Linked DNA regions of Homo sapiens: region 1 is linked to region 2. A link means that fine-mapping ties the variant in region 2 to the plasma level of a protein whose gene starts in the linked region. Region 2 holds a variant in brackets. A gene starts in the other region. All regions are shown on their forward strands. Region 1 holds the start of MB (myoglobin). Region 2 holds the start of CAVIN4 (caveolae associated protein 4).

The links. A credible set is the group of variants that fine-mapping cannot tell apart. PIP is the chance, under the fine-mapping model, that this variant and not a neighbour inherited with it causes the effect. The UK Biobank Pharma Proteomics Project read protein levels with antibody pairs (Olink). The fine-mapping took linkage between variants from a reference panel, not from the people measured, so its PIPs are less certain.
Region 1: it holds the start of MB, and the variant in region 2 is the best candidate, but not a certain one, in a credible set for the plasma level of the MB protein (UK Biobank, PIP 0.59).

The regions. Positions count from the first base shown.
Region 1 is chr22:35,611,774-35,623,689 of GRCh38, forward strand. It overlaps MB (myoglobin), which reads right to left and starts at 5,556. Exons shown (of 3, transcript NM_005368.3): 1 at 5,390-5,556. The coding sequence starts at 5,484. RefSeq lists a silencer at 267-316 and enhancers at 10,295-10,810, 11,469-11,763.
Region 2 is chr9:100,573,338-100,584,687 of GRCh38, forward strand. MSANTD3-TMEFF1 (MSANTD3-TMEFF1 readthrough) reads left to right here. Exons shown (of 10, transcript NM_001198812.1): 10 at 3,179-4,299. The coding sequence ends at 3,263. TMEFF1 (transmembrane protein with EGF like and two follistatin like domains 1) reads left to right here. Exons shown (of 10, transcript NM_003692.5): 10 at 3,179-4,299. The coding sequence ends at 3,263. CAVIN4 (caveolae associated protein 4) reads left to right here and starts at 4,742. Exons shown (of 2, transcript NM_001018116.2): 1 at 4,742-5,214. The coding sequence starts at 4,807. It also overlaps the pseudogene RN7SKP87. The variant G/A (reference allele first, on the strand shown) is at 7,782.

The DNA.
Region 1 (11,916 bases), not on the chromosome of region 2:
GGACTCTGAGCAGCCACCTCCAGCTTTAGACCTCGGTCCTTCCTGCCCACCTCCAACTTTAGACCTTGGTCCTTCCTGCCCACCTCCAGCTTTAGACCTCAGTCCTTCCTGCCCACCTCCAGCTTTAGACCTCAGTCCTTCCTGCTGTGAGCAGGTGGGTGCTGGTTAAAGGGAGTCAGACCTGCCCTCTGGGTAGGAGTGAGTTTCCGCCTTTTACTCATGGAAGACCACAGAGATAAGTGGCCAAGGTCACTTGGCTAGCTAGCGGCAGAGCCCAGACCTAAACCCAAAATGGAACAGTTTCATAACTCCCACCCTTTCCCTTGTGCCACAGCTGAAATGTTTGGCACGGGCAACCCTGTCTGCCCAGGGCTCTCTCTCCTGTCTAATGGTTTCAGTTCCTTGAAAAGCTCCTCTTTTATGATACCCAGGCTCTGTGACATCCTTGTAAAAGTACACAGTATGTATTGTGGCCACACTCCAGTTTGCGCCCTGAGCCACCATGCCCAGAAGTTGTCACAAGGAAGCACCTGATCCCCGTAGTCTCCATCCCAGGGTTTTATGAGGAGGGTATTTCACAACCAGGATGCTGAGCTCCTCAACCTGAAAATGAGTTCATGGTTTTTTTGTTTTTTGTTTTTCTTTTTTGAGATGGAATCTGGCTCTGTTGCCCAGGCTGGAGTGCAGTGGTGCAATCTCTGCTCACCGCAACCTCCACCTCCTGGGTTTGAGCAATTCTCAGAATTCTCCATGTTAGGCAGGATGGTCTCGATCTCCTGACCTTGTGATCCGCCTGCCTCAGCCTCCCAAAGTGCTGGGATTACAGGCGCCCAGCCATATTAACTGATTTTAAAATCCTGATGGGGTAGACGCCATTTTGCAGAGGAAGAAACAGAGGCACCGAAAGACTAACTAGCTGGGGATTTAACCCAGGCAGTCTGGCTTCATGTCTATACTCTTGATGACTATTCGGACTTTGTTATTGTTACACAGAGATATTTACAGGCAAACTGATACCTACATGGACATGTATCAACACCTCACACGTGTACATGCATGCAGGCTCTCACAGATGTGTGTGCACACTCACATATGGGCCTGCACACTCACACAGAGGTACACATAAATATATCCCAGCACACGCCATACTCACCTGCACACACACACAGAGACACGCACAAGCCTGAACCACATACACTCCCTTCCCCCATGTTGGGCATGGTCTGCCGCCGTGCCCAACATTGCCACCTCGCTCCAGGACCTTATCCAAATCCTCGTGCGTCACTGACGGCTTGTCTCTGACACCTTTCATCCAAGGGTCCCTGAGCTCCTGACTATTATTATCTGGCGACAATGATCCTTGAACTCCCGCCTGACAGATGCAAGACCTGGCATGCACAGGCGATGGTCAGAGGTCAGGACGCTGAAAGCAGACTGTCTGAGGCAGAGCAGGGCCAAGAATTTGGGCCACAAGGCAGCTGGGGGTCTCAGACATTTTGGGGCCTGCCCCTGCCCTCTGATATCTAGGGAAGAGAACATGGGACTGACAGTTACGGAAGCTGAGTTCCGGTCCCAGTTCTGGCGCCAATGTGCTCTGTGATGTTGAAGTCACTTAGCCTCTCTGGATCATTGCTCATCCATATGTAAACCAAAAGGGTCTAGACCCGCCAATGCCTTTCTTTCCACTCAACACCAGACAGCCAGGGAGAGAGCTCATATTTACTTTATTAATATTTTTTTGAGACACGGTATTGCTCTGTTGCCCAGGCTGGAGTGCAGTGGTGTGATCTTGGCTCACTGGAGCCTCAATCTCCTGGGCCCAAGTGATCCTCCTACCTCAGCCTCCCGCGTAGCTGGGACTACAGGCACACACCACCACGCCCAGCTAATTTTGTTTATTTTTTGTAGAGAAGGGGGGTCTCACTATGTGGCTCAGGCTGGTCTCGAACTCCTGGACTCAAGCGATTCCCCGATCCTGCCTCCCAAAGTGCTGGGATTATAGGCCTGAGCCACCCCACCCCACCCCATATTTACTTTAAACAGCAGAGCAGAATCGGGCTAATTTGTCTCCCCGCAAGATCATTCCGGCACCACACAGCTGCCTGCCTCCTGTGGGCCCAGGCCTTGCAGCTAGGAGCCCCCCAGGCAGCCACAGAAGGCCATTCTCCTGGATTTGCCTGATCCGGAAAATGAACAGATGAAAGCCCCTCAGCCTGTGGAAATGGACGGAGGGCGTTTGCTCTAGTATTTCAGAAAGCCCCGCTGGCCTGTGTTTCCAGCTTCAACCCTGCTGTCAGTGGGCCTGGTTCATCAGACAGATCTTCAGTCCAAGTCAGAGAGAAGGGAGGCCATTTTCCTGCTGTTCTCTGAACTGAGGCCCAATTGGACACTCACATGGAACATGGAGCACATTGTCAGATCCATGAACACCCCTCTGGCTCTACTAGAATAAAAGAACCAGAGCGTGGGTGGCAGCCCGTCTTGCGTGTGGCAAGGTCATGGGGCAGTATAGCATAGTGGTCAAGAGCAAGGATTCTGGGCCGGGCTCATTGGCTTGTAATCCCAGCACTTTGGGAGGCCAAGGCGGGCAGATCACCTGAGGTCAGGAGTTCGAGACCAGCCTGGCCAACATGGCGAAACCTAGTCTCTACTAAAAATACAAAAATTAGCCAGGCATGGTGGCATGCACCTGTAATCCCAGCAAGACTCCATCTCAAAAAAAAAAAAAAGGAGCAAGGATTCTGGATCCAAGCTGCCTGAATTTGAATTCCAGCTCCTTTCTTACTTGCTGTGTGACTTGGCGTAAGTTACTTAACCTCTCTGTTAAATGTGGTGATCATAATCATATCTACCTCATAAGATTGTTGTCAGGCTTCAGTGAGTGAAACACTTAAACAGAGCCCAGCAATCAGTATGTGCTGAATAAATGGTTGCTGTCTTTCTCCTCCTCATCATCTCTACCATTATCATTATCATTATCATTATCATCACCATCACCCAGGAATTTTTGGTCCTGCCTGTGGCTGCCATTAACCGGTGGAGACTCTCAGGCCCAGTTCCTCCCTGTAATGAGAAGTAGTGACCACCACTGGTGATTTTCAAACATTTTATGACCTTGAAATCCTTTGTTCCCCCCGCTCCCCAAAACAGCCAAAGTAAATAAAACAAAAAAGGTTTGAGTAAAGAAAGGAAAAACAGGGGTGTGGAGCCCACTCAGCAGCCCCCTCCCTTCCGAAGCCCCACTCCTGGAGCCAGAATCTCCAAGTGACCTTCCAGCTTCTGTGTTCTAGAATTTTATGTTTGTGTACGTGCAGTGAAGGCCTCAGTGTTTTACAGACTGGGCTTCATGGAATTTGCCCTCTTTTACAATCAGAAGATTGGAGACATAACCTTTCAAGGTCAGTTAGAAAATCCAGAGTCAGTATCTAGAACAAAGTCAAGATGCCAACTCTCACGGGTGGCATTTGCAGTCCTGGGCATGAGCCTCCTCCACCCTGCCCCCAGGGAGGCCATCCTCCCTGTACCCCAAATACTGAGAGGGCAGAACCAGCTGGCACAGTCTCTGCATGTCCCACAACCTAAGACGTGACAGGGCACCAGGCCTCTGGGACCTTTCAGGGACCAGCAACCCTAGGCATTATGTCTTATCCCTGGCTCCCGGCCCCCGGCAAACCTCCGTGATCCTCCCTGATGATGCAACACCCTGAGTCTCTTTCAAGACGTACAAGTCACTGCCTTAGGTCTGGCAGCTCCCAAATCACCTTGGAAAGACCTCTGCTCTGCAAACTCTGGTCTCCTACCTCCACGCCTGACTGTCCTGCCTCCTCGCCAAAGGCAAAAGTGCATCAAGGACTCAGAGAATTCTAGGGCATGAGCGTGGGACGGGATCTCGGAGACCATGGAAGACAATCCCTTCGCTCAACCAGCAGAGAAATAAGGCCCAGAGGTGGAGAGACTTGTCCAAGGTCACATGGCATATCTGTGGCCCAGGAGTTGATGTCAATTTGTGTGTGTGTGTTGGTCGGGGGAGCACTTTGTGCAATCCAACAGGGCCTGTTGCAGCCAGATGACAGGGACAGGAGAAGAAAGACATAAACACACTACGATGCCATTACAGTCAACAGAAAACTCAACTCTTCTTCCTCAAGTGTTTCTAGCACGGATCACCAACGGCTCAAATTTTAGATAACGGAGCTTCCAGGACCAGCCATGCTCCCGAGGTAGACGGAAGCTGGAAATGGGTAAAGCCCAAGGGAGACCCAAAGGACGACGGAGTGGAAGAGGAAAATTGGCTCTGGCTCACAAATAAGGAGAAATTAATCTGCAAATTAAAGTGCCAAAGACAATCCATTCACTTGTGGCAACCCCGGCGCCCACTTCCTTCCTCCCGTTGGCAGAAACGTTGATTCTTAACCTATTAGACTTCTGAGGGAACCAGCTCAGAATGGTGAGGGAAGGGGCCAAGAGAAGAGTGTATCACCTTTGGGATAGAAGGCAACGAGGAGATGAGCTTCTATGTACAAACCACAGCCACCCTCTATTTACAAACCTCAGAATTTTGTTTTCTTTGGTGTATTCTGGAATCCCTTGTGGTAGAAGGCAGGATATACTTGCAGACCACATCATTCAGACCTCTCAAACTAGAGACATACTCAACATCGAAGGTCACTAATGAGCCTCTATCTTCTGTTCTCTAATTGCAATGCTTTGAAAGGTCCCTAGCCTGGGCTTCATCAGTAATAGCTACTAACATTTCTAGGACTCAGTATATGCCAGGAACCATGCCAGGCCTCTTGCATGCATTATTTTATTTAATTCTCACATCTCCTCTAGGATATAGATATTAGGATATCCCCTCACTGTACAGGAGAGGAAATTGAGGCTCCGAGAGGTTGAGTACTTTCCCAAAGGTCACCCAGTGGCTCAGTGGCAGAGCCAAGTCTAGAACCAGATCTGTCTCCCCTTGAAGAGCATGTCTTAACCTTGACACTTTAAGAGCATTTAATGAGCTGTGACTCTGGAAATGTCCTCCCCTTCTCAGTCCCTTTTTGTCCTCATCCTGTAAGAGAGGTGGCTGTACAAAATCTCTCAGGACCCTTGTTAACTCTGACTGTCTATAATTCTAAAATTCTTCCTGGTGGACTCTGAGCATCCTAGGTTTGATTCTCATGCTTCCTCCAGCTGCTGACATCAGCCTGAAATGGCTCCTTTCCCTCTCCTGAGTCCAATCCCTGACACTTAAAAGCAAAGAAAAAGCAAGTGACCGTTCTAACACCCTTAACTAATGCAGCCAACTGACCTACCCCACGTGCAAACTTTCCACCTTGCAGCTGAACACCCTTGATCTTAGGGTGTGGGTGGCAGGGGCAATGGAATCTCTTCCTTTTACCTGATGAGGACTTCCTGCCCATGGCCTGGGATGTCAGCCTCCACCTTCCCCCAGACGTTCAGCACCAACTGCCATTCCCCGTCGCTGAGCCCCATGGCGCAGTCTGAAGAAGACAAAAAGAGCAAGTATGGGCTCACTGGGTGTCCTGGCCCCAACAGCTGGGGTTTGAGGCTGCCTGGTCCCAAGGGCGTTTTTATACCTTCTGGGATGCTTGACAAAGATCGCTCAATGGCTCGCTGTCCCCCTCCCCTGCCCTCCTTCACTTTCTCTCTCTCATCCAGGGAGGGTCTAATCTTTTCCTTTCTCTAGCCCTCACATGGGAAGCTATTTTAGGGCAGGTGCCATTGTGGCGAGGCAGGACAGCTCAGGCCACAGGGGGTGGGGTGGTTGTGCGTGTGGAAAGAAGGGGAGGAGGTTGGGCACTGTCTGGACTCTCATAGCCGACAGAAAGGGCACCACAGAAGCCGACGCCAGCAGCCTGAAACCCAACGCTCCCTGCGGTCAGCCCTCCCAAGAGGACCTGTCATGTTTCTAAGCTTGGCCACCAGGTGCCCCGGCTGGCCCCAGGACAGTCCTGGCCATTCGCAACCTCTCACGCACCTTCTGCCCCTTTGCCAGAGACCCCTCACCCAGCCAGAAGTGACAGAAAGGAACCGGATGGTTTTGTGCTTATAGCCAGGTGGTCCCAGGCAAGTCCACAATCTCTTAGAGAACTCCTGTTTTCATGACCCTGCTCAAAGGTTTCCCTCTGAAAAGTTTTTCTTGACATACTCCTTTGAGACACCACTAATTGCTTCCTCCTTTCCTTTCTTTGTGTAAGTTCCTGTTGCATTGCTTCCCAAAGGGCATCCTATTTCCTGGTTTTCATGCCATCTTCTCCATTAGGATAATAGCAGCCAGCACTCACAAGAGACTTTGCTGGGTGCCAGGCCCTGTCCCAAACACTTGGCATTTGGTAACTCATTTAATCCCCGCAAGACCTCCCAATGTGATAGGTACTGACATTATCCCTATTTAATTGAGAGAAAGTAGGGAAACATCACTGATGTACAACTAGTCGCTGGCAGAGTTGGGATTTGAACTCAGGAAGCCACGCCCCTTTCTTTGCAGTTTTCAGGAGGGCAGGAGCTCTGTTTTATTAACCCACGTATCTCTTGGGCCTCACATGGTGCTTTGTGCCAAGTTTGAACTGAATAAATGTTTATTGAGTAAATGGGTGGATGGTTTTGCAAAGAAAGAGAGTGGAGGATGATTAGCCTTATCTTACATCCATGCATCCTCCTTCAATCCATTCAGGTATTCAACCATCTATCCATTTATCCACTTGTCCATCCAGTTACTCATCCATCCATCCATCTGTCATCCCTTAATTCATCCATCCATCATCTCTTTGTCTATCCATGCATTCACTCATCTATCCATCCACCACCCATCCATCCAACATCTATCAATCCCTCCATCTATCCGACATCCCTTAATTCATCTATTCATCTATCCATCATCTCTTTGTCTATCCAGGCATTCATTCATCTATCCATCCACCCATCCATCCAAAATCCACCAGTTCCTCCATCTATCCATCTATCCATCCATCCATGTGTTCATCCATCCATCCCTCAATTCATTCATCCACCCATCATCCCTCCATTCATCCATCCACCCATCCCCTCATTCATCCATTCATTATCCCTCCATTCATCATCCCTCCCTCCATCCATCTATCCATCCATCACCCACCCATCCCTCCATCTATCTATCTGTTCCTCCATCCCTCCATCCATCCATCCACCCATTCCCTCATTCATCCACTCATTATCCCTCCATTCATCATCCCCCCTCCATCCATCTATCCATCCATCATCCACCCATCCCTCCATCTATCCTTCTATCCATCTGTAACTCCACCCATCCATCCATCCCTCTCACAGTGATAGAGCACCTACTGTGTGTCAGACACTGCTACATGCTGAGGATAACAAAATCAAATAAAACACCTTCCTGTGTTCAAGGAACTCAGAGTCTTTTTAGGGAGATAACTAAGAGGAATGAAAATACAGTACAGTTTGTTTAGTGCTATGATCAAGGTAGGCACAGGCCCTTCCTTCCATCTGCATAAGACTATACAGTTTACAAAGTGGCTGCTTGGCAAGATTACATCTAATCTTTACAACACCTCTGTGAGGTAGCGAGCACCACCCCGCTTTACAGCTGTGGGAGATGAGATTCAGAAAGGATAAGCCAGTGTTTGGGCCATCCTGGGTCTGCACTGGATTTGTCAGTAATGACTGCCCCACCTACACAGCTTTTTGAAGATAACTGCCCTGCCCCAATCTTGCTGAGGTGCAGGTGTAGCCAGTCATGTTCTGGGACACACAGTTCTCCCGCAAACCTGCTGCCAGTCACAGCCAAGCTGAGAAAGCCAATGTCAGGGCTCCATCTGAATAGTCAGCATCTACTAGCTCTGCCAGTCAGATCCCAGCTTCAGAATGTGAACAGAGATGTTTGGTAAGAATTGGACAAATAATAGGAAATGTAGCTAGAAAAAGAGTTAAATTCAAAGAATCCCCAAACTTGGAGTTCCCCAGTGCAACTTTGGGTCAGAACGCCCTCTGTGTGGGTCTCTAAAGCCTGGCTGGTGACCATTCTAGGATTGCCATGAGCCGCCACTCCCTGGAGGAGCCTTGTGTCTCCATTCAGTGAGTCCTGTGTACTGAGTCGGCTGACTCCTAGCGACCAAAAGGGTCAGAGGCACCGGCTGCACCTCTGGCGCCCCTTCCCTAGTGACCATTCCAGAAGTCAACCCCAAATGCTAGGCCAGCCGACCTCCAAAGGCCCATCTCTTTAGCAGTGGAAGAAGCAGTAACAAAATAAGTAGCTAAAATGCCATGGGGGGCCGGGCGTGGTGGCTCACGCCTGTAATCCCAGCAATTTGGGAGGCTGAGGTGGGTGGATCACAAGGTCAAGAGATCGAGACTATCCTGGCTAACATGTTCAAGCCCTGTCTCTACTAAAAATACAAAAATTAGCTGGGCATGGTGGCACGAACCTGTAGTCCCAGCTACTTGGGAGGCTGAGGCAGGAGAATCACTTGAACCCGGGAGGCAGAGGTTGCAGTGAGCCGAGATCGCTGTACTCCAGCCTGGCAACAGAGCGAGCCTCCATCTCAAAAAGAAAAAAAGAAGCCATGGGGATGCCAAAGGGGATCTCATTCATTCATTCAGTCAGTCAGTCATCTGTTTGTTCCTTTGTTCATTCATTCATTTGAAAGCCCATTACTGAGGCCCCAGTCTGTGCCAGGCCCAGCCTCAGAAGGAAAGACAACTCTGAGAGGGTCTGCCCCGGTCTCAGACTCTCAGCAGTTTGACCCTTACTGCTGGTCACTCGCTGGAGGTGAGTCCAGGGTGTGAGAGAGGAGGGCAGAAAGAAGGAGATGGCATTGAGCTGTGCCACATCTGACCTGGGGCCCCCTGCCTGGTGCGCTGGGGAAGGCCAAGAGGCAGATCTGAGACTCCTGGAGATTGAGACGCAATGTGCGGTTTTCAAATGCTCTCTGGCCTGTGCCCTCCCGAGAGTGTCAGAACACCCCTGAGGGTGCGGGGCAGGGCAGGGCTGATTACTACCCGAATCCCAGCTCTTCTCCCGTCTCTGGCCTCCTGAGTTGTCTGGGGATGGCCTGAGCATTTAAAATCTCATCAACCCATTACTGATGCTGAAATGTTTAATATGAAGCTATCACCCGCTTGGCAAGCGCCCCCATTAACTGGCATGCTCATGGAAACCTGTAGCTTTGAAGTTGATGGACCTTTTAAGTTTTACCATTTAAGCTAATGGGAAGGCACCGACATCTGTTTGTACTCACACATCTCTACAACAGAGCAGCGTTACCTCACAGTTGCTATGGCTACCTGGAGTCACCAGCTCTGTTTGGGGGCTATTATTATCCCTGTGACAGCCTTCATTATGGCCAGGGCAGAGAAGCTGCAGACACATGATAGGAAAGCCAGGCTGCCTTTGTGTGCAAAACTTTCTACAGCCTTACACGCTCATGCTACACACACGCACACACACGCACGAATGCAGGGCACATTAGTCTGATACCCAGTGGGGCAAAACTGGATCCCACCAAGTCAGACCTCCTCTTTTTCCCTTTCATATCACAGGATCCTTTGAATCCAAAACTGAGACTTGTAGAATCATCCTCAAGGCTCCCAATTCTGGAATCTTGAGATCCCAGAATTAAAATTCTAGAGTGTCAAAGTCTTCAACTTTTCAGCACCGGAGAAACTTGGGTTCTAGATTCCAGACTTATAGAGAGCTAGAAGCAGAGAAATCTAGAATTATAGGGCCATAGTATCTTGTGACTAAAAGAGGCCTTCAACGGTATTTTGTCCAATTTCCCACTAAACATAGTTTTCCCTACAGATCATCATCTGGCATCTGCTTGAATACTCCTGGGAGTGGTGAGCTCACTACCTAAAGCTTTAAAAATCCTTTTTTATGTCGAACCAAAAGATGCCTCCATGTCACGTGCACTTCCTTGCGGCAGCTCCGCCTGCTCCTTGGGGATATAGAGGCCCAGCTGAGTCTGCCTCACAAGAGAAGGAGCAGGCTCACCCAAGACTTTTCTTGTCCAGACTGAACATCCCAGGACTTCCACTGAGCACCCTCCCCAGGCAAGGCAAGTCGGGGGCCTCAGTCTGGTGGAGAAAGACGGGCTCTGCCATCTTCGGTCTCCAGCCACTCTCACCTCTGGTCACATGCACACAAAGAGAACGCTATAGCAAAGGGGATTCCAGCACCCACCTGCACAGGTTTGAGCCCCTCAGGCAGCTGTGCACCTGGCCCACAGTTTTTATGGTCAGAAAATCCAATCTAGGTGACCTAGGAATTTGCTAGCCCTTGGACAGCTGACAATTCCCTTTGGTAAATCTGGGCTTAAGACACCACCAAGGGAGATCAAAGATGTGGCAAGAAGGAGAACTCTGGCTCCTCAAAGCCAGGACTCCCCACGATCTTCACTACTCTCTTCCTCCTCCTTCTGGGAACCAGCCTTTGGAGGCCAGTCTGGGCAGTGCCTCCCTCCTGCCAGCAGGCCCTCCCACCCCACCCCCAGCTTAGCTTGTGCCTCCCTGGCAGAGTCTACCCTCCTGGACCAGCGCCAGGCCAGGGCTCAGAGCAGGGCTGAGGCCTGGGAGTTGCAGGACCTGCTCAAGGCCCTTGATGGGGCAGCAGAACCCCCAAGCTTGCTCCAGACTCCCAGGAACCCACCCACCAGGGCTGCTCCTCTCCAGCCCCTCAGCATCCATCATACTGACCACAGCTCCCCTTCTCCCCAGCTGTCCTCGCAGAGCCTCCAGCCAAGCGGCCAGGGCTGGGGGTGGGGAGAGGTGTCTTATAGCAGCCGGGGAGAGGCACAGGGAACTAAAAATACAGTTTACATGGCAAGGCTCCTCCTCTCCCTGCAGGCCCAGAGGGGCTTATTGGAGGAGGGCTGGCAGGGACACAACATCCTAATCCCTTAGTCAACAGGTGTGGCCTGGGACACCGACCTGCCTCCCCCCTCCACCCTCCCCAGCCTTGGAGGCTCCGAGTGGCTCCTCCAGCTCCACCATCCACCTGTCACCTGGACAGAGACCAGCCCCGCCTCCACAGTCACCTAACCCCACATCCACCCATCCTCCCCTTCCTTCAAGGCCCATTGCATAGGAACGGCTCCCCTGCCAGGACTCCTCCCACCCCGCTCTACCCATTCCCAGCAGATGTGCCCTCTTCCCCACTCTGGCTCCAGCATGGGTGCAGCCTTCTCATCTCTCTTGCTTTGGGGTGCACCTGTCTGGACTGGCTTCTCCCCATTTCTACCCTGTGAGTGCCTCAGAGGCAGGAATATAAAAGCCACAAACTCATATTGTACTTAGTGCACACCAGGGACACCCCTCCTCCCAGCAGCCCTTTCTTTTGCAGGAGACACTTTTACAAGCGTCACTTTACACTTGAGAGAACTGAGGCACAGAGAAGTTAAGTAACTTACCCAGAGTCACACAGCGAGGAAATACCAAGCCCAAGATTGGGACCCAGGTAGTCTGGCTTCAGAGTCTCTGCTTCATGGCTAAGAACTGGTCTAATTTGGAGTCCTTCCCCCTCACTCTCTCACCTGCTCTACAGTACCTAGCAAAGGACCAGGCCAACATGCTCTTTGATTGTTTATTTTTGGATTGAGTCTGCCCAGGGTTTTGGCTTGCTGGAGGCAAAGGCAAAGACAGTCGGTGACCTTGCCCCAGGGCTGACAACGGGTGCCCTACTGCCATCTAGTGGCAACAAGGAAAAAAGCCTGCACCTCTGCCCTTCCATCTGGGCTCTCCAGTCCCTCAACCCAGCCAGTGGGGAGGGGTCTTTTTCTGTCTCTATATTCGTTATATTCATGGCGCCTTGCTTAGAAGACCATGGATGGCTTGCCAAATTATTAGAAGATGAATTGTGATCTTTTAATATTGTGATCCAGGAAAAGTGGCATAACTTTCCAAGGGCGC
Region 2 (11,350 bases):
AGTAATAAGCTTTAAAATTCTGTATTATAAATAAAATTATTCGTCATAAATTAAATGACTTATTTGGAGTGCAGTGGCATAAAATGGGTCTTTTCTAAACTGAGTAGAAATACATAAGTCAGACTGAACTGGGCCTGAGAAAAGTCAGAGTAAATCCAGCAAGTTCGTGTTGTCTTTGTGCTTCCCAGTCTAATGCTTTTCTTCCTGCTTACCTCTTTCTTTAAGCTTCAGTTCAGAAGTCTCATAAGCATCATTTCTCCACTTCCCTGCATTATTCTGGGCAGAGGGTTGAAGCATATCAAATACAGATATTGGCAGGCCATAATGGATTTGTGGCCCTTCTATCCAAGGTCTGGATAGAAGCCAGACCTTCAGTAGTCTCAGCCATCTGGAGCTGAGATGATAAATCTAGAAATGATAAAAAAGAAAAGGTTCTCCAAGTAACAGATATTTTTCATAACACCTAGGCATGAAAGTCAGTGCGCTTTATTTCACAGAACAGATGATCTGCCCTTAGGCAAGACTACTGAATATAAAATTGGACGGTAGATCAAAGTAGGGACATAATCATGTAACAAATAATGATAACAGAAAGAGAAGATAGGGAAAACACATTTAACAGCATGACTGGCTGTAGCCATTTAATATAGACTCAGAGGTTAAGTAATTTGTCTGTGGTCATCCGACTAGTAAGTGGAATTGTCTGGATTTGGATTCAGTTTGATTCCCATTCATTCTTTACACTGAAAGGTTCCATGTTGAGTCATCTTGGGAAACATGTTTGCCCAGTATGACCATTGCATGGGAGCAGGGTTCAAACTTGATTTTGTAGCAGTTTAGGGTTTTTGAGCAGGGGAAGGACTTGGTATAAACCATATTTTTCAGAGTATTAATGAGTCATCTGAAAAATTCATTGGAGTAGTGAACATATGAGGTAGGGGGAAGACCATTTAAGTCATTATTAGAGTTAAATAGGAGTGAGGTAATGAATGATTTGGAAGGCAGAAGGAAAATTAAGGTAAAGTAAGGGGAGATGTTTGAGGCCTGGAGATAGTGCCTTTATTTGAGACAGGGTCTCACTCTGTCATTCAGGCTGGAGTGCAGTGGCATGATCTTGGATCATTGCAACCTCCACCTCCTGGGCTTATCTCAACCTCCCGAGTAGCTGAGACTACAGGCATGCGCCACCATGCCTTGCTAATTTTTGTATTTTTTTTTTTGTAGAGACTGGGTTTGGCCATGTTGCCGAGGCTGGTCTTCAACTCCTAGGCTCAAGTGATCCACCTGCCTCGGTCTCGCAAAGTGCTGGGATTGTGCCCAGCCAGATAGTGCCATTTTTAAGAGGATCAAAGGATGTCAGAGTCAATGAGAAACAATTCTGAGTTCAACCCCTTCATTTAGAGAAGTTGGGAAACTGAAGCCCTGAGATAAGAAGTACCTTGGTCTAAGGTCCTAGAGCTAGGAAAGCCCCCTTACAACAGTCTTTTACCCAACTCTTTCAGTGCTATAATGCTCAACTACTCAATTAAAATTACCTGGCAGGCAGTTTTGAAGTAGGTACCCTCTAGTTTATACTCCAGATCCCTCCTTGTTGCCCTCACAGCCACTTAGACATCACAGTGTATTTCTAACTATGTCACAGTGTCTTTACTGCCCACTGTCTCTACGATTGAAGAGTCATCTCATTGAATTTATCACAGATTTCTCCTGGAGGCCTGTCTTTTTATTATGGTATTTCCTCCCCTAGAATGTCTTGCTATCTTGGATTTAGAACATTTATGTACTTGGATTTATTTCCATTGAGTTTTTAAGTATCTCTCCCACACAGTCCATTATGAGACAGCTGTTGACATATACCGTGGCGGCTGTCACATGGGAGGAATCTTCTTTAAAAGGATGTTCCCACTGACCTGTTTATCAAGACTGCATGAGTCAATTTTTCTTTTTTTCTTCTTCTTGGAATCGCCTTTCATATTTTCAGACTCATAGAATGACAGATTGTCAGGAACCTTGAACATCACCTTAACTAAACGCCCTGATTTTATGGATTTAAAAACCATGGCACTAGGAAATTGGAATTTTTCCAAGGTCATGGTGAGTTAGTGACAGTACAAGAGGGTTGCTTGATCTGTCAGCTAGTTTTCTCATTTATGAAATGGAGATGATTCCAACTCTGTCTACCTCACACTTTTAAAATGAGGATTAGTGAGGTAAAACCATATACAAAATGGAAGTATTGTCAACACTTTTAGTCAAGGCAAAGCTGTACTCTTTGAAATCGAACGAAATGAGGAGTACTCATTGTTATAAGACTTTCTTTCCATTAGGTTGTAAATTTCTTGCTGGCAGAGATTTTGGAAGCTAGTCCAACTCCTAATTTATTTTTTACATATAGGAGAATTGAGGTTGCACAGTTAGTTATTAGCAGAGCCCAGAATTCGTCTTAGCCCCCTTACTCCACATTGCATAGCACAGCATCTTGTGTTTGCAATCTAGTGTGCAGGCACAAGAGCAGTTCCAACCCAGTGAGATTTGTACTGCTGTTGAGAAACGTGGTAAAATGAGAGCAGAGTTAAAGAATGTCCCTTATCCTCAGTGTGGCAGTTCCTTATGGGCTTCTGTGGTTTGCCCCAGGAGGGTGTGGACAGCTTCTTTTGAGTCATTGTCTAAAATCAGTAGACATTCCTATGTATTCATAGCTGAGGTTAATAAGCACACTTCTTCCTGATTTCTCCCTTCATCTAAGCTCTTCTTGTCATTTTAGAGCTGTCTTCTCATAATGCACAGGGAAAGTACATAGGCCAGAGTCCTTTCTCCTGTCAGGGGTTTCATGTTATCAGTCACTGTGACTAGGGAGTTTCTAGGCTGGAGGAAGGGTGGGATATCTGTCAGGGATGCATACATAGTAGCATAGACACTGGTAATGAGTTTTGCTTGTGCCAGTACCTATATTACATATCTAATCCTCTCAACTTCCAGGTTTGTAGAGGAGGTAGCAGTCTGAATTGTGTTCATCTTCATCTTGTCTTGCAACAGATACCATCTCATTTCCCTTTCATGTAATTGCTTGCAATGTGGCTTTATGTGCAAAATGTGTATTACTTTGGAAACATTTGAAATATCCTGAACAAAATCATCAAAACAATATTTTTCTCTCTTTCTTTTTTTAATGCAACAGAAAATGCCCCAAAAACAATAGAGGACGTCGACAGAAGCAAAACCTAGGTCATTTTACTTCAGATACGTCATCCAGAATGGTTTAAACTGATGACTTTTATATGTACACTGACCATGTGATGTACATTTATTATGTCTTTTTTTAAAGAATGGAAATATTTATTTCAGAGGCCTTATTTTTGGACATTTTTAGTGTAGTACTGTTGGCTCGTATTTAGAATATTCAGCTACGACAGTTTTGGACTGTTTAGTAGTCTTTGTTTTATGTTTTTAAATACAGAAATTGCTTTCACAAATTTGTACCACATGGTAATTCTAAGACTTGTTCTTTACCCATGGAATGTAATATTTTTGCAAAGATGGACTACTTCACAAATGGTTATAAAGTCATATCCACTTCTTCCACAATGACCACAGCAAATGACCAAGCATGAACTAAAGGTAAAGATGTTTACAGATTACTTTTCTTACAAAAAAAATCTAGAAGACACTGTGTTTAAATAGATATTTAAATGTTTTTGAGATTTAGTAACTGATTTTTTAGACACTGCCTATCGCATGAACTGTAAAGCTGTGTGTATTAGGTGTAAAATATTTATAAGATATATGGACTGGGGAATTTGATTATTCCTCCCTTTGAAAAAATAGTCCTAATAATTTGAACAAATATGTTAGTAATGATGGAACAGATCAATGAAAAGTAGATATAGATATTGTGAAAATAGGCTGTTTAACAAACAGATTGGAATAAAGCCTATTCTACCAGTTAAACTACTTTAATACACATTCATTTTTAAAGAAAATGTTTGTTTTAACATAAATAAACAAATCGTATCAGTGTTTGTGAATAAAATACAAAAATGATTGTTAATGATTGGTGCTCTTAAAGTGAGCTTAAAATTTATCCAAGACGTATATCCAAATTTGTCCTGTAGTAATAGATTAATATTCATAGATTGTTGGTGTTTAAAGATCTGAAGTGTGAGTAGAATGTATTCAGCTGTTTAACATGTAGTTTAGATATTCAAAAGTATGCATGTAGAATTTAAAGAATATGTTAAAAATTATTAATTTTAATATTTTGTTTGGAAAAGCATGTTATAATATAATGTTTTCACTATATGGCCTCTGTTTTGGTGTGTTTATTTACCAAATTTTTTGATATTGGTGTTTCAGTATATTTAATATGTGAAATTAGTAGAAAAAGCAGATTTCGGTTCAGAATTCCCCTTTACTGTTACAAATACTGATTGAAATTATCTAAAGGCAAAAGCTTTACCCAACATTTGGAGTTTGCTTTTTTGATCATTTGGCTTCTAGGTTTAATATTAGTTACATGGTGGCTTTAGTGAACTTTTTTAAAAAGCTTTACTCTTCTACCCACACAGTCTTATTTGAGTCCCTTAGTCAGTCAGCAAGCATGTTTGGAACAGTCCCCGGTGCTTTGCAAGGGTTCAGATTGCAGAACAGTCACATATGGGTATTTGTAGTTATAAATACTTGACCGTTCTCTAGGGGTGGGGTTTCCAACTCTTTAAACAACCCTGTTGCCTGTTATCAAGCTGACTTTTTGCTCCAAGTGCCAGAATTGATTGTGGTTAGGACATCTTACGCTGAGAAATAAATAAAATGGAACATAATGGGTCTGCTTCAAATGCTGATAAAATCCACCAGAATCGCCTGTCGAGTGTTACAGAAGATGAAGACCAAGACGCTGCTCTTACCATTGTGACTGTGCTGGACAAAGTAGCCTCCATCGTGGACAGTGTGCAGGCAAGCCAGAAGAGAATAGAAGAGAGACACAGGGAAATGGAAAATGCCATAAAATCCGTCCAGATTGACCTGTTGAAGCTTTCACAGTCGCATAGCAATACAGGGCATATCATTAACAAATTGTTTGAGAAAACCCGAAAAGTTAGTGCTCACATTAAAGATGTGAAAGCCCGGGTGGAGAAGCAACAAATTCATGTTAAAAAAGTTGAAGTCAAGCAAGAGGAAATAATGAAGAAAAACAAATTCCGCGTGGTAATATTCCAGGTAAGCTTGCACTTGTGTTCAGCTTGCTTGTTCTAATCTCTTGCATCTTTTAATTGCCAAAAGTCATATCAGAGGTTTCCAGTGTCACATCTTAACTATTGTATATATTAATACAATGGAGTTCTGTATTAGCAGCAATCTCAGGATAAAACCATTTCTCTGTTAACCAAAGTACTATCTGTCATTTCGGTATTTTGAGCTTCTCAACCATTTCATGTAATATGAACTGTGGCTCATAGCTTAGGCTATTTCTTGCCTTTGAAACTTAATATTGGTAAGGCCCTTTCAGCATATTAGCCTTATTAGCATGAAGCCCTCTCATAGACTTTGAAAATGTTAGAACTAGAAGAAGACTCAGAAGCCTCTAGTTTAAAACACTTCTTTGTTCTCTAAAAGAAGAAACTGACAACCAGTAGCAGTGGTTTTTTCTGCTTATATGGAGAGCCTGGAAAGGCCTAAACAGTAGATATAAACTTTTCAGAATGTGATTTGTGTATTGGAATTTTTACATATAGATCACAATGATAGCGATTTTCCAATGAACAATGAGGCAATTATTTTTCTTATTATTATAGTAATACAAATATATGAGTCACATAAGTAGTTTCCTATGTTTGATTACAAAGTCTTTTTACTTAAGTGATTTAATATAATATTTTGTGTGTGGCATTGTGTATTGAGCTAAGTTCCCATATTATTCTGCGCTTGGCACTCATATTTTTGGAAATAGGAACATATTTATGGCAAATGCATAATATCTATGGTATATTTTCAAAACTCTTACAGTTAAAAGGAAAAAAATTGAACATTCCTTCACAGTAGAAAAGTGGGAAACTGTCATTATCAGGCAGTTTACAAAACACAAATAAGAATAAAATTCTAATTTCACCTATTTAAATGTTGGCAGTTATTAAAACCTATACCCAGAGGTTAATTTAAGGATTGGGAAAAAACACTTTCATATTCTGTTGGTAGAAATATTAATTGATAAAACATTTTTGAAAGGCAGATTTGGTAGTATGTATTAAGAAATTTAAAAATTCACAAACTTTTTGGCCCCAAAATTTATGTCAAAGAATTTGTTCTATGCATAAAATCAGGAATGTGTGTAGGAATGTTCACTGATGCATATAAAGTGTTATTTTTAAAAATGACACCTGTATTTTAAAAATGAGTACTTATGTACATAGGAAAAAAACTAGAAGAATATAAACTAAATGAAATAGGAACACAGTTGGATTATGTAGAGGATAATTTGTAAAACACGAGGGATGTGGCCCATAACTCCCCGTGGCATTCTTTACACATTAGGCAATTCTCCATAGCCCTCTGTTGACTGATAAGGTTACACTGGGATGGTGGAGTGGTATTTTAGGTCTGTTTTTAAGAGCCTGTAGGTTATTTAGGAAAAGTAATAGGAGAGTGAAGAGTTGCTTATTTCAAAGGTAGATAGGGCAGACTATGCTATTTGAAGTTCTTTATCATTTCCCTTTCCTTTCATGTCCCTGGAAGTCCTTCTATAGGCTTAAAAATTTGGGAAAAAAAAAAAAAGCCTGGGCAATGTGGCAAAACCCTGTCTCTACAAAAATAGAAAAGTTAACCAGGTGTGTCGTCGCGTGCCTGTGTTCCCTGCTACTTAGGAGGCTGAGGTGGGAGGGTCACCTGTGGGGAGGTTGAGGCTACAGTGAGCCATGATTGTGCCACTGCACTCCAGCGTGGGTGATAGTGAGACCCTGTCTTAAGAAAAAAAATTGAAAAATTGAAAAAAAATCAGTCACCTGATTTTCAGAGGCCAGTTCCAGTGTTAGTATATGTAGTGGGAAATGTAGTATCCATTCTTTGATTTGCCTTCTGAAGATGTTCAGAATTGTGGGTATATCTTACCCTCCACTGGCATGGGCGCATGGCCAGGAAACATATTTGGCATTCACGACTGCTGAGAACTTTTGTGCAAAGCAGTGGACTAAGTGCCAATTAAGATTTACAAAAGCAAGAGCAAAGAAGTTTCTGAAAAGTTTCCATTGACTCTGTTGATTGACATAACTCTTCTTTAAACTTTAAGATGTTTCTGTATTCACCTGTTTAGTCCCTGTAACTTACTGCTAATTGTTCCTTTCTTTGATCCCTTGTAGTTATTTAAAGCAACTGAAGGGTGCTAGTTTAGGGCACATCTCTTCTCTTGTAAGAAATAATGCCATGAAGATTCTGCATAATTAAGTTGTTCAGAGTAGCAGCAGTTCGTCAAAAAGTAATTGCTATCATTTATAATGGAACAGCTCGTAGAGAAAAGAATAATGGACATAGAACTCTGATTCAAAGATTCATTAGATGTTAGAAAGCTGTATACATGGTCACATGGTTATTCTTAGCAGTTAAAATTAGTTATAATTAATCATCATAGTTAAGGTATATAAATGGTTATATTGAGATTGCTCCTTCTGCTAAAATTAACTTGAAACCAAGCAATTCAGCCATAGTAAAAATTACCTGCTATTTCTTATACATTTATTATTTCTTTTCGAACATACTATATCTTCACTAATAAGCCTCAGACTTTTGTATATTCA[G/A]AATTTCCCTAGCTATATTAGTTTGAGAGCTTGTTTGGAAGTTCTAGCAGGGGAGTGCAGCTGCTTGTATACCCTTGACCAAAGACTGGTCCTCCTCTATCGTGGATGGTCATCCTCTTCGACCAAGCGTGCGGCTTCGAGAGGGACACACATGGAGCGGTGAGGGAGGAAGGGGACACCCACTTAGCCCAGCCAGATCAGCTGAATCAACCCTGGCAATCAGTGGGTTAACAGATGTTGCAGCCAATCGCCCTCACATCCCATAGCTATATTAGTTTGATGTTCAATCCAGCCCACAGTACTCTGAAGCACAGTATTCATTCTGTTACAAAAATGGTCTTTTTACCTGGAGTTTTATATTAAAAGATACAATTATATTTGGAAGTCAACTATAATTCAACATCTACAATCTTCAGTTATTATAACAGTCTATTCACCATTAGCTCATGATGTCGCTGTCTCATTGGAGTTGCAACTAATAGATCTGCGTAACAAGTACTTTTTTCTGACTCTACTCCTGTTTTGTTTTACTTTAAAGCCTGATTTTATATTATTTGTTGTGTACTTAAAGGAGGGTATGTGATTCCTGGGCTAAGCTATATCTGATTTCTTCACAGCAAGATTGTGTTTTTTCCCCTATCTAACAGTAATTAACTTTTGGCTCTTTCGTTTTCTAATTATACCCTCTCAGGCCGTGCCAACCCACATTGTGTTGCTGAAGCTACTCCCTGCAGCAGGTGTCAGGAAAGGAGAGGAATAATTTCGCTGCTTCAAACTGATTCATCAGAGAGCTATGAGACGCCCACCCCTGCCTTTTTTAGCTCCTAGACTCTCTAATCCTATAGCCAAAGAATTTAATTTTAAATAAGTATCCAAAGAAATAAGGTTCCAGGGATATCTTCTTGACTATCAGGCTGATAGGTTTTGGAATATGCATAAATGTGTTTTGTATATATTTATATATTTTTTGATTGAATAGATTTAATCTGGATCTCACGTGGGGGCACAGTTTCTTTTAGAAATTTTAACTCGTGGTTCAGTTAAAAATCTCATGATTTTTCAACTTTTGTCTGTTTAGTTTGAGAAATGCTCCCTATTCAGTTGGGTTCCTCTAGCTGCTGTGGTTGGGCTGGCTCTCAAGGTTTCCAGTGTGTGTCATGTCCCAAATCCAATTCTCATCCTTATTCTTTTGACACATTTGACACGATTGGACCTCTTTCTCTCTCTCTCTCTCTCTCTTTTAAAGAGACAGGGTCTTGGTCTGTTGCCCAGGCTAGAGTTCTACGGTGCAATCATAGCTCACTGCAGCCTCCAACTGCTGGGGGCAAGCCATCTTCCTTCTTCAGCCTTCCAAGTAGTAGGGACTACAGGTGCGCATCACCTTGCCTGGCTACACTTTAAAATTTTCGTGGAGGTCTCACTTTGTTGCCTGGGCTGGTCTTGGCCTCAAGTGATCCTCCCACCTCAGCCTCCCAAAATGTTGGGATTATAGGCATGAGCCACTGCACCCAGCCCCTCCCTTTCTCCTTGAAACTTCTTTCCTCTTGACTTCTGGGGTTACTCCTCTCTTTGGGAGTTCCCCCTGCCTCACTGGCTGATATCTGTCCTTTTTTTTCTTTTCTCATTTCTTCCTTCTACCAGTCCAAAATCCATGCTCTGTAACACCCATATTCAAAAATTCTTTAAAATATTTTTTAATAACATATTTGACAGCAAGACCTAACTTGACCTGAAATTATTCAGTGGAAAAACCTGACCTAAAGTAGCAGGAGGCTATTTCTAGCTTTTATCCCAACTTAGTGTGAATATTCATATTTTTTTTTGCCACAGAAATGTTTCTTCCAAGATCTTGCTGGGAATGTTATGTAATAAATCATATTATTTCCAAAGTCTGAAATATTCTGAATTCTGAAACACACCTTGGTGCCAAGGAATTCTGAGTAAAACAGAGCATAGACCCATTCACTCAGTTTCTTGGTGATCTCTTTCATCTGGTCTCATGACTTTAATTCCATCTTTACATCAATGACTCCTAAATTTGGGTGTCTAGCCCAGCCCTCTCTTCTGAATTCCAGACTCATCTACTCAGCTGCCTGCTCAGTGCCTCTGCCTGCATGGCTAGTGGGTGTCTCCAAGACAGCGTGTTCAGATCCCATCCTTCCCCTCCAGTCTCTTCCTCCTGCTGTCTCCCCCATCTCAATTAATGGCAGATCTATCTTTCATCTGCTCAGGCCATGTACTTGAGGATTGTTCTTGACACTCTGGCACTCCACATCCAAATCTAGTGGCAAATCTTGTTGGCTCCTACCTTCAAAGCAGCTCCGAATCAGACTGCTTCTCACCCCCAACCTGTCAGCACCCTTACCCAGTGCTCCCTTGCCTCAGTGTTCTCCACCTGTTCTCCCTGCTTCTTTTCTTGCCCCTACACCCTGTTTTCAACAGAGTGATGCTTTTATAATGTGGGTCAAATCCTGGCACTACTCTCCTGCAAGCCATTTATTCATTCATTCATTCATTCATTCATTCATTCATTCATTCATTTTTTTTAGACAGAGTCTTGCTGTGTCACCCAGGCTGGAGGGCAGTGGCACAATCTCAGCTCACTGCAACCTCCGCCTCCCGGGTTCAAGTGATTCTCTTGCCTCAGCCTCCCGAGTAGATGGGATTACAGGCATGTCCCACCACACCTGGCTAATTTTTGTATTTTTAGTAGAGACTATTTTGCCATGTTGGCCAGGCTGGTCTCGAACTCCTGACCTCAGGTGATCCCCCTGCCTCGGCCTTCCAGAGTGTTGGGATTACAGGTGTGAGCCACTGCACCCGGCTTCCTGCAAGGCTTTTAGAAGACTTCCTCTTATGCTCAGACCTCACCATTGGATACAGAGCATTGCATGACCTGGACCACCTGCTATCTCTCTTACCCTCTTGCCTCCCCTTCTTGCCCTTTCATCACTCTGCTGTCACCACACGGCCCTCCCCACTGTTTCTCTGTTCTTCCCAGATCTATACACAGCCTTCAGGTCTAGGCTTAGATGTCACCGTATGAATGAGGCCTTTCTGACCACTGTAGTTCAAACAGCACCTTCCTTGTCGCTGCATATTCCCCTTCCCTGCTTTAGTTCTCACCTTAGTGTATATCTTGCCATCTAACATGCTATATAGATTTTACTTGTTTGTCCCTCTCCGAGAATATAAGCTCTTTCACTCTTTTGTCTTCAAAGAAGCTTCACAGTTTCTAGAACCAGAAAATTTACTGGTTTGTGGTGTTGCTTAATAACTTTGTTGAAGGAAGGTATACACCTGTTTGATCCAATAATCATTTATTGAGTATGCCTACTATGTGCAAGACACTCTGATAGATGCTGGGCATAAAACATAAATAAGACACATGATCTCTGCTTTCAAGGAATCTGGAGAAGACCTCTGGGAGATACATATTTTTGAGTAAAGCTTCAATTCAAACTGTGCTAAATGTTATAAACAGAGGTATGTATGTGTAAATTTGAGATAGAGTTAGCCACTTGAGGAAGTTGGGGACACTTGAATTGATTATTGAAGAAAGATTTCAT